Regions from separate parts of the Homo sapiens genome. Here region 1 is linked to region 2. The links come from fine-mapping of genetic effects on gene expression. Tissue or cell type: testis. Region 2 holds a variant in brackets; the other region holds the start of a gene. All regions are shown on one strand. Distances are from middle to middle.

Region 1 (5,000 bases), 120 kb after region 2:
ATGATGTTGAGTATCTTTTCATCTGCTTATTATCCATTTCTATATCTCTTTGGAGAAATGTCTGTTCAGATCTTTTGCTCATTTTTTTTTTTTTTTGAGACGGAATCTTGCTCTGTCGCCTAGGCTAGAGGGCAGTGGCGCGGCTCACTGCAAGCTCCGCCTCCCAGTTTCACGCCATTCTCCTGCCTCAGCCTCTCGAGTAGCTGGGACTACAGGCACCCGCCACCAAGCCCGGCTAATTTTTTTATTTTTATTTTTATTTTTATTTTTAGTAGAGATGGGGTTTCACCGTATTAGCCGGTATGGTCTCGATCTCCTGACCTTGTGATCCGCCCACCTCGGCCTCCCAGAGTGCTGGGATTACAGGCGTGAACCACCGCGCCCGGCCAGCTCATTCCCAAAAATCAGGTTATCACATGAATTATAAGGATCCTGTATATATTCCTGATACTAAACATTATATAAATGATTTACAAATACTTTCTCCCATTCTGTACATCATTTTACATTCTTTGTACTATCCTCTGAAGCACAAAAGTTTAAAAAAATTTTTTTTTTTTTTGGGACGGAGTCTCGCTCTGTCACCCAGGCTGGAGTGCAGTGGCGCGATCTCGGCTCACTGAAAGCTCCGCCTCCCGAGTTCACGCCATTCTCCTGCCTCAGCCTCTCCAGCAGCTGGGACTACAGGCGCCCGCCACCACGCCCGGCTAATTTTTTGTATTTTTAGTAGAGACGGGGTTTCACCGTGTTAGCCAGGATGGTCTCGATCTCCTGACCTCGTGATCCGCCCGGCTCGGCCTCCCAAAGTGCTGGGATTACAGGCGTGAGCCACCACGCCTGGCCAAAAGTTTTAAATTTTGATGATATACAATTTATTTTTCCTTTGGTTGCACGTACTTTTGGTATCATATCTAAGAAAGAACTGCCTAATCTAAGGTCAAGAATATTTATACCTATGCTTTTTTTCTAACAGTTTTAGCTCTTATATTTAGGTCATTGATCCATTTTGAGTTAATTTCTCATTACTTTTTGAAGATGAAAATTAACTACTATGAGGGCAAATGTCACCCACATAGAAATGGCATTCCAAAATAGCTTCAAAAGGTTATTAAAAGGGCCAGGCGTCGTGGCTCACGCTTGTAATCCCAACACTCTGGGAGGCCGAGGCGGGCGGATCACGAGGTCAGGAGATCGAGACCATCCTGGCTAACACGGTGAAACCCCGTCTCTACTAAAAATACAAAAAATTAGCTGGGCATGGTGGCGGGCGCCTGTAGTCCCAGCTACTCGGGAGGCTGAGGCAGGAGAATGGCATGAACCCGGGAGGCGGAGCTTGCAGTAAACCGAGATTGCCGCCACTGCACTCCAGCCTGGGCAACAGAGCGTGCGACTCCGTCTCAAAAAGAAAAAAAAAGGTATTAAAAGTCACTGGTAAAAGATATATAAAATATTTTTAATTAAAAGCTTTAGCTCAGATAATACTAAACCAGTGGTTCTTAAACCCAAGTGATGCTGAGGCTACTGGTCTGGGGACCACTTTGAGAACCACTATTCTGAACCATAATTTCTGATTATGAACCCTATTTAAGTCAGCTTAGTTGACACATAAGTTATAGAAGGAAGCAACTTTTAGAATGAGAAATCCTTTCTGCTAGGTTGTAACCAGATTTTTAAAAGGTTTGACTTGAGACTTTAGTTGAATAGACATCTTGTGGAACATACAAATATTAAAAGATGTGGAAAGTGAGGCCAGGAAAGTTGAAGGGAATCAAGCATGGCTAATAGCTATGGGTGGCAGAACAACTGTTGTTATACAACCCAGGGTTTCTGGATTCTCCAGGCAATTTCCAAAGCAGCTTATACATGTAACAAACTTTTCCATGTTGAAATAATCTGGGGATGATGCCACCTATGTTTAATATAAATCAAATGCTGGCAAAACCTTTTTTTTTTTTAAGTGAAAGGTATGTTTTTTAATACTCTTCTACTGACTATGGACAGTCTACTTCAAGCTTTTCCAACCCCGGCCCGCACGTGGCACAGGACGGCTTTGAATGTGGCCCAACACAAATTCGTAAACTTTCTGGAAGCATTATGAGATTCTTTTTTGCGATTTTTTTTAAAGCTCATCGGCTACCTTAGTGTTTGTGAATTTCATGTGTGGCCCAAGACAATTCTTCTTCCGATGTGGCCCAGGGAAGCCAAAGATTGGACACCCTTGGTCTACTTCCAAGAAGCCTACTGCAGTTTCTCGAAAAAAAAAAAACAAACAAAAAAAACTCACAACCAGAAAATCGGACTAGTAAAAGTGTAATTTTAGGCTTAGAAAGAATCTTGGGACAACAGTACTTCACGTTTTTGGAATGTTTCCATCTTTGTGAGGCTAAGTACCGCTTTCTGCATTGTTGTGTACTTTTATCTTCATTCCTGATTCAACTTTCATCAGGCAATTTGAAGTGCTTCACCTAACAAGAAAATTAAAGAGCGATGTGCACCATCTCTGCTGTGCGATTCCAGAGCTGGCGCAGTAATCTAACTGGGTTTTAAGTTTCCCCGTCAGGCGTGACTGGGACTTGGGACATCGCCAAGCGGTCAGCGACGCCCGTCCCAGTTCAGAGGAGCAAGAAAAGCCTGTGAGCTGGGGACACCGATGTGAGAAACAACGCCCGCGTTTCTGAGTAGACAACTCGGGAGCCTGAGGAAGAAAAGCAGGGGCAGGCCGAGTCCATCTGGGGCCCCGCCTCAGACCGCCCCGGGGCCGACAGGGGCGGGCAGGAGACGGGCGAAGAGGCCCTCGGCGGGATGCGCCACACAGGACGCCGCAGGGGCACGGCTGCCAGGGGCCCTGAGGCACTAGGCCCCAGCGCCCTTCTCCTACCTCACGCTGAGGGAAGCGGGCGACAGTTATTCGGGCCCAGGGACGACGCAGCGGTTGGCCAAAGCGCGACGCCGAGCCGTTGCCAAGCGCGGAATCCAAGGAAGCCGCTCCCACAGTCCTCCGCGCGGGGGCGGGCGGGGCCGGAAGCGCGGGGGCGGGAGAGAGCGCGGCGGGAAGGGGGTGGTGCGGGAGGCCTGGGGAAGTGGGTGGGGGCGGAGAACGGCGGGTCAGAGAGAAGGCAGCCCGGTCCCCCTCAGTGGAAGGGAGTGGCGGTGGGCGGAGGGTGTTGAGGGGACGGTGCCAGCGGCTTGCGGGAAGCCGGGCGATGCGGGTAGAACGGTGGAGGAGAGGGCAGGGAGGCCGGGGCCTCCCGTGGAACGGAACCGGGGGGTTGGGAGGCTGGGGGCGGCCTGTGTGAAGGGGGCGGGGAGGGAAAGGCTCGCGGCCAGTAGATGCAGGAGGGAGGAGGGCCTAGAGGGGCTCCGGGCTGGCGGCCTCTGTGAGGAAGGGGAAGGATATGGAACCAAGATCCTTTAAATCCTGATGAACTCATCCGTAAAGCAGATGCCCAAAGGATGATAGTAAGCTTACTGTGACATAACTCCCGGAGCCGCAGCACGAGCCTTGTGAACCTTGGAAGCCCGTTTTCCGCGCAGTCACTAACTCGCTTAGTCACCCTGTGTAAAAGTTATTCTGGGATGACACCTGCCTGGGAAGTCTCACCTTTCCCCCCACCTCCTCCTGTCTGCGTATTGTTCTGTAGCACCCCGTGCGCACCTTGATTGTAGCGCTTAAGGTGTCCGTTTTATTTACTAGACAGGGATTGAACCATTGTGTCCCAACCACCTAGAACCTGGGTCATAGTGTAAAGCTTAATCAATGTAATATAAATGGGGGAATTAAATTCATAATTGTTTAATGTTTAAGTTTTGTCTTAAATTTTAAAAGTAAATGTTGGGGATGGAGGGGAGGGACAGAGGGAGTCTAAAGACACCAGTAATTAATGAGTTTTTATAAAATAAGTAGTGTTGGCCGGGCGCAGTGGCTCATGCCTATAATCCCAGCACTTTGGGAGGCTGAGGCTGGCGGATCACCTGAGGTGAGGAGTTGGAGACCAGCCTGGCCAACGTGGTGAAACCCTGTCTCTACTAAAAATACAAAAATTAGCCCGGCGAGGTGGCAGGCGCCTGTAATAAATCCCAGCTACTCAGGAGGCTAAGGCAGGAGAATCTCTTGAACCCAGGAGGTAGAGGTTGCAGTGAGCCAAGATGGTGGTATTGCACTCCAGCCTGGGTGACAAGAGCGAAACTCCATCCAAAAAAAGAAAAAACATAGTGTTGGGGGACAATTCTCCATGGGTCACCTGCACTTTCCCGTGTTTTGTGAGCAGAGACACTGACTGCCTTTGTTCTGGAGTACTATGATAGCTGGTATTTTTTAAGATGTGATTAACAGTTAAATTAGACTTGAGTAAAGCAGTTGGTCCTCCACAAGGTGGGTTGGCCTCATCCCGTCAAGGGAAGGTCATAAGAGAAAAGACTAAGGTCCTCTGAGGAAGAAGGAATCCTGCCCCCAGACTGCCTTCAGCTCTTTCCTGGGTCTCTAACTTGACCTACAAATTTTAGGCTTGCCAGCATTATAAATAAAGTTTTGGTGCCGCAAAAGAAATAGCACTCAACTATAAAATTTTCTTTTTTCCTTCTCAGCAAGGCAATTTACTTCTATAGAAGGGTGCGCCCTCACAGATGGAGCAATGGTGAGCACACACCTGGACAAGGGAGGCGAAGGGGTTTTTATTCCTGACGCTTGTGGCACCTGCTGCTGTGTCCTTCCCCTGTTGGCTAAGGTTAGACGGCACAGGCTAAACTAATTCTGATTGACTAATTTAAAGAGAGTGACCGGGTAAGTGGTTTGGTGGGAAAAATAGTTATGGCAGAGCAGGAAATCGGAATGAGTCAGGGTGGAGAATGAGTCAGGGCAGAGCAGGTAATCAGAATGAGTCAGGGTGGAGCAGGTAGTTGAAAAAGATTGCTTTACGAGGAAGTTAAGCTTTTTTTGTTTTGTTTTGTTTTTTTTAATTGAGACAGAGTCTCGCTCTATAGCCTAGACTGGAGTGCAGTGG
Region 2 (10,811 bases):
GGTACCTGTAATCCCAGCTACTTGGGAGGCTGAGGCAGAGAATTGCTTGAACCCAGAGAATTGGGAGGCAGAGGTTGCAGTGAGCCGAGATCACGCCACTGCACTCCAGCCTGGGCGACAGAGGTTGCAGTGAGCCGAGATTGTGCCACTGCACTCCAGCCTGGGCGACAGAGCAAGACTCTGTCTCAAAAAAAAAAAAAAAAAAAAAAGGCTCTTTCCTCTCTGCAATTTTTAGTTTTATTGATTCCACAGATCTCCAGAGACTTTGAAGACATGATTTTTGCAATGATTTGTTTTTTTTTCCCAGCTGCTACGGAGGGCTTCCATGACCTACTGCATCCTTCTCAGAACTGGAAGTTTGAATCCTGAAACCTCCTACATCACTTGTTGCTCTTCTCAGTCTCTTCTGCTGAGCCATCCTTTTTCTCTGGTACTCACAAGCACATTGCTTATACTTCTTCTCTAGCCTCACTCTCAGACCTAATTGATCTCATTCAGTTTCATGGTTTTAAGTACGAAGTGTACATAGATGGATCCCACATCTCTACCTGTAGCCCTCACTTCTGTGACCTCCAGATTTTAAAGATTAACTGCATTCTTCGCATCTCAAATTGAATGCTTGAGACAAATTTAACATGGGTAAAACACATCTACTTATTCCCCCCCAAATCTATCTTACTAAAAAGACAACACTAGCCACTCCGTTCCTTAGCCACAAATTTTGGCATCATCTTTTCCTCTCTTTCCCTCACAATCCACATCCAATCCATTAGTAAGTCTCAGCTCTGCCTCCAAATATATGCTGAATCTGACCACTTCTCACAATTTTCTATTGCTAAAAACCTGTCTCAATTGCTTTCATCTCTTACCCAGGCTACTGCTAGTAGTTTCCACTCTTCCCTTCCATCCCACTTGCCCACTTCATCTTCATGGCGACCAGTGTGATGACTGGTTTCTAAAGGTTAAATGAAAGCACTTCACTCACCCCCCTTGCATGAAACCTTCTAGCAGGTGTTCTATAGTAACTAGAATAAGATCCAAACTGTCTTTATAAGGCTGTACATGCTCTGAACCCTGCCTACCTTTTGGATCTCATCTCCTTTCCCTTTCCTGCCCATGTAGCACACCACCCACACTGCTGGATCCCAAACCCTCTCACTATCACTGTAGCTCAATAACCCTGTGACACATCCAGATCATTCATTTTTCAGTGTGCGGCACTTGCTGCTCCTTCTGCTCAGAACACTGCTTTCTTCTCACCATTCTAGTGTTATTACCAAGGCCACCTCTTAGAGTCCCTCCTCTATAATCACTACCTATTGCATTACTCCATTTTGTTCTCTTAACTGTAATTAACAATATCTAGAGTCCTTTAAAAACATATTTTCTGGCCAGGCACGCTGGCTCATGCCTGTAATCCCAGCTCTGGGAGGCCAAGGTGGGTGGATCATGAGGTCAAGAATTCGAGACCAGCCTGGCCAACATGGTGAAACCCCGTCTGACTAAAAATACAAAAATTAGCCAGGTGTGGTGGTGCGTGCCTGTAATCCCAGCAACTCAGGAGGCTGAGGCAGGAGCATTGCTTGAAACCAGGAGGTGGACGTTACAGTGAGCCAACATTGCACCACTGCACTCCAGCCTGGGCGACAGAGTGAGATTCCATCTCAAAAAAAACCCAAACAAACAAACAAAATATATTTTCCATCTCCCCACCAGAATTTAAGCTTCTTGAGGGCAAGGTATAGTTCTTTTTCACTACTGTATCCCCCAAATTTTAATGAATTCTCTGCACATACTGGATGTTTACTGTATTTGTTGGCTGTCTCATCAATTAGAGCATAACCTACTTTGGGAGCAAGGAATGTGGTCTAGTTTTGGTTTTCCTCCCTCGCATCTAACAGTAGCATGCACGTTGCAGAGACAATGGTAAGTAAGATTGAGGGGTCCATTCTCTTTGGTATAGTGTTAGAGATAAGCCACTGCTTCTGACATCCTCGTCATTATAATTCCTCTGGAGACTCTAGACCAGCCAAACACATTGTTAAAGAAAAATGCAGGCAGTCCTGCCCCCAACCCACTAAGTCACAAATGGGAAAAGCCATCTTAGAGTTGTTACTGCTCTGTGCTATTGGTGCACACCCCCGGGCTGAAGTAGAAAGGAACTTCGGAAAGGAGCACTAGGGTTATGGTTTGGTATTTAATCCCATTACCCTTTATACTGCTTCCAAAACATAATTGTTTTAATAGTGTTTCTAATCCCCACAAGGCAAATCTTCCAAAGAATTTCCAAACTCCAAGCAATTTAAGTATGAATAGAAATTGTGCCTATGTCCACACAGCATTTTTCAATCTGCAAGCCATGAAATCAATGTAGTGGCTTCACTACTAGCACTTTGTTTGAATGAAACTATAGAAAATATTAGCATGTATTGCAATAATAAGGGTAAATTTTTATGACTACATACACATATATGTACTAGGTTGTGTTATGAAATTTATTTCTTCCTGTGTGTCAATGTTTTCAAAAAGCTAAGGAAGTCACTGGCCTAAAGTATTAGTTTTACCTGTTTTTATTCCTTAAAAGAAAAAAACAACTTAAATGCATACATACAGAATAGAATACACTTACTTAAGTTTTGACAGTGAAAAAAAATAATTACAGGTTAGATATTTAATCCAAGGTTTAACATGAGGATGATCTCATAAGGCAATTTCTTTCCTTTAATAAATATTAAAGTGAATATTATTCTGGAAGCAAATCATCTCCTAATTCTTCATCAGCAAAATCATCCTCATCGATCCTTTTCTTGGCTGCAGTTTTTGGTCGTTCTATTTGAGGGCCAAGTGGGTCCACATAGGAGGCATCTAGGTTTCGAAGAGATTGTCACGTTAGAGTTATGTAAACAAACAAAACAAATGTGAAACCAATCAGGCTCATAGTCAAAATGAATAACTCAGAGTGAACAGAAATGGTCTCCCAAGTCATTTTAAATTTTATCTGTAAATATCAAATTCTTAAGAATTCCCAGCAACACCTTTTGGCCATCTCACCATTCTTCTTCAGACCTGCTATGCCTGGAGGAACTGGGTGGAGAGTACTTGCCTATTTCTTTGTTACTGCTACTTTCATAAGGTTCATTTGTCCCAGGTAAAGCTCTGAGTCTGGCACTTAGTCGTTCACCTTTACTACTGGCACTATAGTTCTGGCCACTATCTGAAAACACGAAAATAAAAATGCATTTGTTTAATATGTTGAGAAAACATAAAACTACATTATGCATCTTAAAGCATACTTATTTGCCAAGAAACAAGCAGGTTGTTTAATTTGGAAGCCAGCTTCTTAGGGATATAATTCTTGTTTTCTGAAATTTAAAAGAAATATCTTGTGGGAATCTATAATATAGATAAAACATCACTTAAGAGTAGTCTGTATATGTATTCTTTCAAATGTGTGCTTACTTATAGGTTTCAATTTTATGGAAGAACTTAAGAGAAAGTAAGAGATCACCCTGACTCTTATAATTGCCCAAATAGGCAATGGCTGCCTTAGGAAAAAATGTAATATGTATCACTGAGGATTTTCAGATAAAACTGAACACTAACATTAGTAGGAAATGTTAGTAGTACTTTTTAACCAGAAATTTCTGTGATATTTTCTAAAAGTACTCCTCTAGCCCCACAGTTTTCCTTTCTTCCCCTTAGAATTCCTAGAGTGATATTTTTTCTATTATGTAAGCCTCACTTTTAATGAGAGTAGTCCACTGATAAACACACTGACCATTTCGTTTTTGAATATAGTTTGTCTTTTAGTTTACTGATAATGTCTCTGGGAATAAATCAGAACAAGATGGTCTTTAAAATCCCCACATTTTAAGATTGGCCAACTGACCCAAAATAGTAAGTCTTCTCTAAGGTTCTTATCCAAAACCTTACCATTTCCCCTACCACTGATGTTACGGGAAAATAAAGCTCTTTAGTGTACTGAATATGTCTACACACTTTAGTATATTTTACATTATTTTGTCCCTCTCTTTTTGTTAAAACAAAAGTTAATTTTTTCCATGCAGAAATGTATACGGGTGTCTTTTAAACTGCCTGAGTGAGCTCAAGTCAATAAAGTTTGAAAAACATTGCTCTAGGGATATTTCTTTTACTTTTTTTTTTCTGAATAATGTATATCCTACCTGTCTCCAAAAAGGTTTAAGATAAGCCACCAAATATATACACAATAACTATATAGCAATCTTTTAAAAGATGAATGAGTATGTGAGAAGAAAAGTTTGGGTGAGAAACATAAAACAAAGTTGGCAGGGAGTGGTCCAAACAGGCCTTCTTGCCTTAGGGTTTGCAGTCAACGAAGGGCAAGGGCATACACAGTTCTTTGACTCATGGGTACATAAGATATGACAACCAATGTCTCCACAAAAATGTAGGTGTTCTCATTACAGAGATAAGATGGAAATGCCTCACAGAACTGCTCACTGAGGAATACTGTGGAATGTCAGAAACACATCCTCATTAGTAAATACGACAACGTTATTTCACTTTTTACACAGATGTAAATTACCAACAAAACCCTGATAGCTCCCTCAGGCACCCAAAACCCTTCTGAAATCCAAATCCAAATTCCTAGCCTGAAAGATTCAAATTTTGTGGAAAAAGCAAACCTTTAAAAAATAAAACCTGGGGCCGGGCACGGTGACTCACGCCTGTAATCCCAGCACTTTGGGAGGCCAAGGCAGGCAGATCACGAGGTCAGGAGCTCGGGGCCAGACTGAGCAACATGGTGAAACCCCGTCTCTACTAAAAATACAAAAATTAGCCGGGCGTGGTGGTGCACACCTGTAATCCCAGCTACTCAGGAGGCTGAGGCAGAAGAATTGCTTGAGCCTGGGAGGCAGAGGCTACAGTGAGCCAGATCGTGCCACTGCATTCCAGCCTGGGCTACAGGGTGAGATTCTGTCTCAATAAATAAATAAATTAATTAATTAAATAAAAATAAAGTGCTTATATAAAAAATAAAACTTGGCTGGGCAGAGTGGCATGCACCTATTATCCCAGCTGCTTGTGGGGATGAGATGGGAGGATCACTTGAGCCCTGAAGTCCAATGCTGCAATGAGCTATGACAGCACCACTGCACTCAGCCTGGGTGATACAGCAAGACCCCATCTCTAATATAAATAAATAATAATTACAATATTTGTAGTCTTTGAAGATTGGACTCTATAGTTTCTGTTGTTGCTTACTCTTAGTGACTTATTTCCTCATGCATGCATACTTTTTCTTAACTGTAGGTTCTTATTCTTTGGAACTTAAAAGTGCATTCCTCCAAGGAGGATTTAAGTTTATTTCTTGTAGGCACCTTGTAGCCTCACCAACTGAAGTCCACTTTAAATCAAATTTTCAGCTTGGTGTTCTTCAGAACACACAGATATAATATGTATTCTAGCTCCAAAACTATGTGAGTGAAGGCTTACTTATGGTTAGGAATTATCAAAAGAGCTCTTCTTGTTTTCTACATTAGAACCAAGGTGAAAATCCATCATCTGTAGGGTGGCCTCTTTTCTTTTGAGATGGAGTTTCGCTCTTGTTGCCCAAGCTGGAGTGCGATGGTGTGATCTTGTCTCACTGCAACCTCCACCTCCCGGGTTCAATCGATTCTTCTGCCTCAGCCTCTCGAGTAGCTGGGATTACAGGCATGCGCTACCACGCCCGGCTAATTTTTTTGTTGTTGTTGTATTTTTAGTAGAGACGGGGTTTCACCTTGTTTGCCAGGCTGGTCTCAAACTCCTGACCTCAGGTGATGCGCCTGCCTCGGCCTCCCAAAGTGCTGGGATTACAGGCTTCAGCCACCGTGCCCGGCCAGAGTGGCCTCTTTCCGACTTGGCCTACTCAGAGTATTGCCAGTGAGAAGTCCTAGCTTTGTGACAGGGATTCTTTGATCCGACCTCTGCTCTGGCCTTTTTGAGGCCCCAGGCCTTATCTCTTGGTCCCCATGAGTGTCTATAATCTGAGGTTCTCAATCATGAGGGATTAGCTAGGCAATGCCAGCTCCTGCACATTGGATTTAAACTTTCTAGATCTTTTTGGCCTCCAAAGAATTTCCTTCTTTGCTACCAACTCAGCCGTGCATTTTTGAAGTTTTTTTCATTTTATTTTTTCCTCCCCCTTCTTCTTTTCTTTTTTTTCTTTTTTTAACACGCAACATATCATTTTTAGGAGAGCTATACTTGGAGTTTTCCTGAATATTTAGACTATCTTACCGTCAGACATAGATATTTGTAATAATTTTATAGCCAGTAGAAATATACAAAAATGTCATTTAAAAGGCTAAGTCTAACCCCTTTATTTTTCAGATGAGAAAACAGGCTTAGGATAGTGAAGTGAAGTGACTTGTTCAAGAGTGCATAGTTGGTGACAAGATCAGCACCAAAACCCAGCCTTCCTGACTGCCAGCCTGGTCCTTGCCTGTTAGACAAATAGTGCCTCTTTAGCAAAGGATCTGTGT[GTA/A]AAGTGTGGCACCTGGGCCTTATTCATATTCAGATTCCAAGCATATGCTATTCCAAGCTCAGCAGTTTGGCTCGCCCCACAAAATGTGGCTGTCTTAATAATGACAGTTAAGCATTTAAAGGAAACTCACAATCTCTAATCTCTTTTCACTACCCTGTATTTTAGACCCTTCTGCTGGCCCCAGAACAACCTGACCCCCTCCTTGCCTTATTAAGCAAGTCTGCAAAAAAAATCTTAACACATTTCTAGTTGGTGGCCGACTACATCCCGACTTGACCAATGTTTTTACAAGGCAATGCATACTAAGAAGATGACCTATTTGTAACATTTTAGAGTGACGTAGTTTTTAAATATGAGGTTTTTTTTTTTTTTTTTTTTTTTTTTTGGTAAGAAAGTGACTTTTAAGCTGGGTGTGGTGGCCTGAGCCTGTAATCTCAGCTACTCAGGAAGCTGAGGCAGGAGGAGAATTTGAGGCCAGGAGTTCAAGAAAGTGAGTCTTATAAAAGGCTCTATTCACAGAATAAATTAAGTAAGGTTAAGGGGCTAACTACATAAACTTTGGTGAAAATTTCTCTCCAAATAAAAATGAATTGTTTCCAAGGAAAGACAGTCTTTACTAATTTAGAAAGAATATGGTTATGAGCATAAAAATAATTTATAGCAGTAATAAACTTAAGATAGAAAAAATAACTGTACAGGGAAGATGAAAAGCAATGTCCTTCATTTTTGCTAATTTTCTAAACAGGTTGCGGCAGAGATTTTTATCATATTTAAATACAATGATTTTGTGAAACTGAGTACATAATACATTTATATAAGTAATGAAAATAAGAAAAAATGTATCAATTTCTTTATCTTTAACACCACCGATGCTATTTTAAATTCTGATGAGTGTTAACTGTGCTCCTGCTCAGTACCTTATGCTGTTCACACCCAGCAGAGGCAAAAGGAGATGCAGCCACTGCCTTCAGGAACTTTACAATCTGTGGGTGACTTTTACCTTAAGCATTCACTATAAATAATTTCCATGATGTCATACCTATAACACATTTTAAAGATCCAATAAAAGTACTTGCCTTTCCTGCATTTTTATTTTACTGATTTCTGTATGAACATTATTTTGCTTAGAGAAAAGTAAAAAGGAAACTACATTGTGTGATGATTATTATTCACTGCACTCCAGCTGCAAATAAGATTGTCTCTAGAAGTTATATCATCTCTCAAAGCTGTTAAGTGATCCAAGTCTATGGAGCTCCCAATGGCAACAGCATCCCCCTTAAAGATCAGCCAAGGAAGCTCGATGTGGGATCTCACCACAGTGGGGAAGAAGGGGCCTGTAATAACTGCTCCAGGGTGACACAACTGTGAAGAACATAATTCAACTTGGAATTATTTCCAGTTGAACATTTGGTTTATTCCCAATGTTTCTACCATAAATAATGTGATCAATATGTGTGTACAAAATTATTTCTTTAAAGTAAGTTCCTATCAAAGGTTATGGGCATTTTAATTAATTTATTTATTTTTTGAGATGGAGTCTTGTTTTGTCTCCCAGGCTAGAGCGCAGTGGCGCAATCTCGGCTCACTGCAACCTCTGCCTCCCGGGTTCAAACAATTCTCCTGCTTCAGTCTCCTGAGTAGCTGGAACTACAAGTGTGTGCCACCATGCCCGGTTAATTTCTGTATTTTTAGTAGAGTCAGGGTCTCACCATGTTGGCTAGGCTGGTCTCGAACTCTTGACCTTAAGTGATCCAAGTGATCTGCCTGCCTTGGCCTCCCAAAGTGCTGGGATTACAGGCGTGAGCCACCATGCCCGGCTGGGTACGGGCATTTTAAAGGGCTTGATGAATATTTCCAAACATTCCCAGCAGGGTGTGCCACTTAGAACTCCCCCCAGCAGAATTTAGTTAATAAACAGTGCTCATCTCATCTCATCCTTGCTACCCTTGGGAATTACCTTTTAAAAAATTCATTGCTAATTTTATAGGTTAGTTTGTGCTGGTAGCAAGCCCTAAGCCTGTCATAAACAGGCCTTAAAGAAACTGGCCATAAAAAGGATTTCTGCAGCAATGTGGCATGCTCGTGATGGCTATCACACACACTGCTAGAAGTCGTTGGTTTACTGGAGCAGGGCAAGGAAAACCTGGCCCCCCCACCCCCGGGAGCGGAAAACTGCTCTAGCCATAAACAATAGCAGGAGCAGCCTGTGTCTTAACAACGTGTTTTTGCTGCAGATAATCAGCCAGGGCCTGTTTCTCTGCTCCTCGCTAAAATTGCTTTGTTTCCCATAAGGAATGCTTCTAGCTAATCTATAATCTATAGAAGCAATGCTTAGCACTGGCTTACTGTCAATAATATGTGGGTCAGATTCCGTTTGTGGCTCTCAGCTCTGACGGCTGTCAGCCCCCTGATCCCACTCTGCACTCTATTTCTGTGTCTGTGTCTTTAATTCCTCTAGTGCTGCTGGGTTAGGGTCTCCACGACCGAGCTGGTCTCGGCAAGCGGTGCCCAACATGGGGGCTTGAACCCGGGTCGAAGGGTCGCCCCGAAGCGACAGTTGGAGAACGTGGAACTACGCTGGGGAACACCCGAGTACTCTTAAGCAATCCCTGTGGTGAGTAAGAAGGGGAGCTCGGAAGCATCAGGGTAACAATGGGACAAGGGTCGAGCAGGCACGAGGCTTGAGTCTGCTTCGGCATCTCCTCAGAAAAGGAGTGAAGGTTAGCACCAGCTGACTTATGCAACTTTTTAGTGTGGTAGAGAAATACTGCCCCTGGTTTCAGGACCGAGGAACTATGAATGTAGAGGTCTGGGAAAAGGTAGGCAGCACACTGAAAAAGGCATACAACGATGGTGCTGAGGATATTCCTGTAACTCTCTGGTCAGTGTGGATTGTGGTTTGTTCCACCTTGGAGCCTTTCTATATAGATGACAAGGAGGAGGAATCAGAGGAAGAAGGAGAGTGTAACGAAGTAACTAACAGAAGAGATGACAGAGCAGGTTTGCTTGCCAGCTAAAGAGACAAAGGAGGGAGAGGTTTGTCCCTACCCCTCTATACCCCCTCATTATTTTGAAGAAAAAGAGTGGCCTGACTCTCCAAATCTCTCTTTTCCAGAGGACACTGGGCAAAAAGTAGCTGCCCCAGTGACTGTTCCAGCAGTGCCTCGAGCGACCGCTCTCAGTTCCATTTAGGCAGGAATCCAGCAAGCTAGATGAGAAGGTGATATGGATGCTTGGCAGTTCTCTGTTAGAATATACTCACCTGATCAACAGGGGAATATTATGGCTACATTTGAGCCTTTTCCTTTTAAATTCCTCAAAGAATTTAAACCAGCTATTAATCAATATGGACCAGGTTCTCCTTTTGTAATGAGACTGTTAAAGAATGTTGCTGTCTCCAGTCAGATGATGCCAGTGGGGACGGTAGGATTACTTCTAGGTAGGTCTAGTTTAAATTTAAAAGGAGTGCAAGTACATACAGGAGTCACTGATTCAGATTACAATGGGGAAATTCAAATTGTTATATCTACTTCTGTTCCCTGGAAAGCAGAGCCAGGAGAGCGTATAGCACAGCTCCTGACTGTGCTGTATGTGGGAATGGGAAAAAGTGAAATTAATCAAACAGGAGGATTTGGAAGCACAAATAAACAAGGCAAAGCAGCTTATTGGGTGAATCAAATTACTGATAAATGTCCTACCTGTGAAATAACCATTCAAGGAAAAAAATGAATGAAAGGATTGGTAGATACAGGAGCGGACATTTCCATCATTTCTCTACAGCACTGGCCATCCGCATGGCCAATTCAACCCACTCAATTTAACAGAGTTGGAGTTGGTAAAACCCCTGAAGTATATCAAAGCAGTTATATTTTGCATTGTGAAGGACTCGATGGACAACCTGGGACTATCCAGTCAATTATAACTTCTGTACCTATAAATTTATAGGGGAGAGATTTATTACAGCAATGGGGAGCACAAGTTCTAATTCCTGAGCAACTATATAGCCCTCAAAGTCAGCATATGATACAAGAGATGGGGTACGTGCCTGGCATGGGATTAGGAAAAAATTTACAAGGGTTAAAGAAACTGCTTCAAGCGGAAGGACAGAATTCTCATCAGGGTTTAGATCATTTTTGATGGCGGTCATTGTTAAGCCTCCAGAACCTATACCTTTAAAATGGTTAACAGGTAAGCCAATTTGGATAGAGCAGTGGCCGCTGAGTAAAGAGAAACTGGAGGCTTTAGAGGACTTAGTTACTGAACAATTAGAAAAAGGACACATAGCTCCAACATTTTCTCC

Which allele goes with the higher level. Positions count from the first base shown, and alleles are read on the strand shown. Sizes are in standard deviations (SD) of each study's normalised expression.
For the expression in testis of the gene that starts at base 2,978 in region 1, allele GTA in region 2 goes with a lower level than allele A (moderate effect, 0.58 SD a copy in GTEx).

The links. PIP is the estimated chance that this variant, and not a neighbour inherited with it, causes the effect.
Region 1: IFT88 starts here. The variant in region 2 is the best candidate, but not a certain one, in a credible set for the expression of IFT88 in testis (GTEx, PIP 0.82).

Annotation. Positions count from the first base shown.
Region 1 is chr13:20,565,135-20,570,134 of GRCh38, reverse strand. It overlaps IFT88 (intraflagellar transport 88), which reads right to left and starts at 2,978. Exons shown (of 26, transcript NM_006531.5): 1 at 2,879-2,978. It overlaps LOC105370103 (a long non-coding RNA gene), which reads left to right and starts at 3,106. Exons shown (of 6, transcript XR_941725.3): 1 at 3,106-3,459; 2 at 4,585-4,634. RefSeq lists silencers at 2,585-2,773, 2,869-3,278.
Region 2 is chr13:20,683,108-20,693,918 of GRCh38, reverse strand. It overlaps IFT88 (intraflagellar transport 88), which reads right to left. Exons shown (of 26, transcript NM_006531.5): 25 at 3,104-3,214; 26 at 2,475-2,865. The coding sequence ends at 2,744. Among named protein-coding and RNA genes, the nearest start is that of IL17D, 15 kb to the left of the region's middle. The variant GTA/A (reference allele first, on the strand shown) is at 6,510.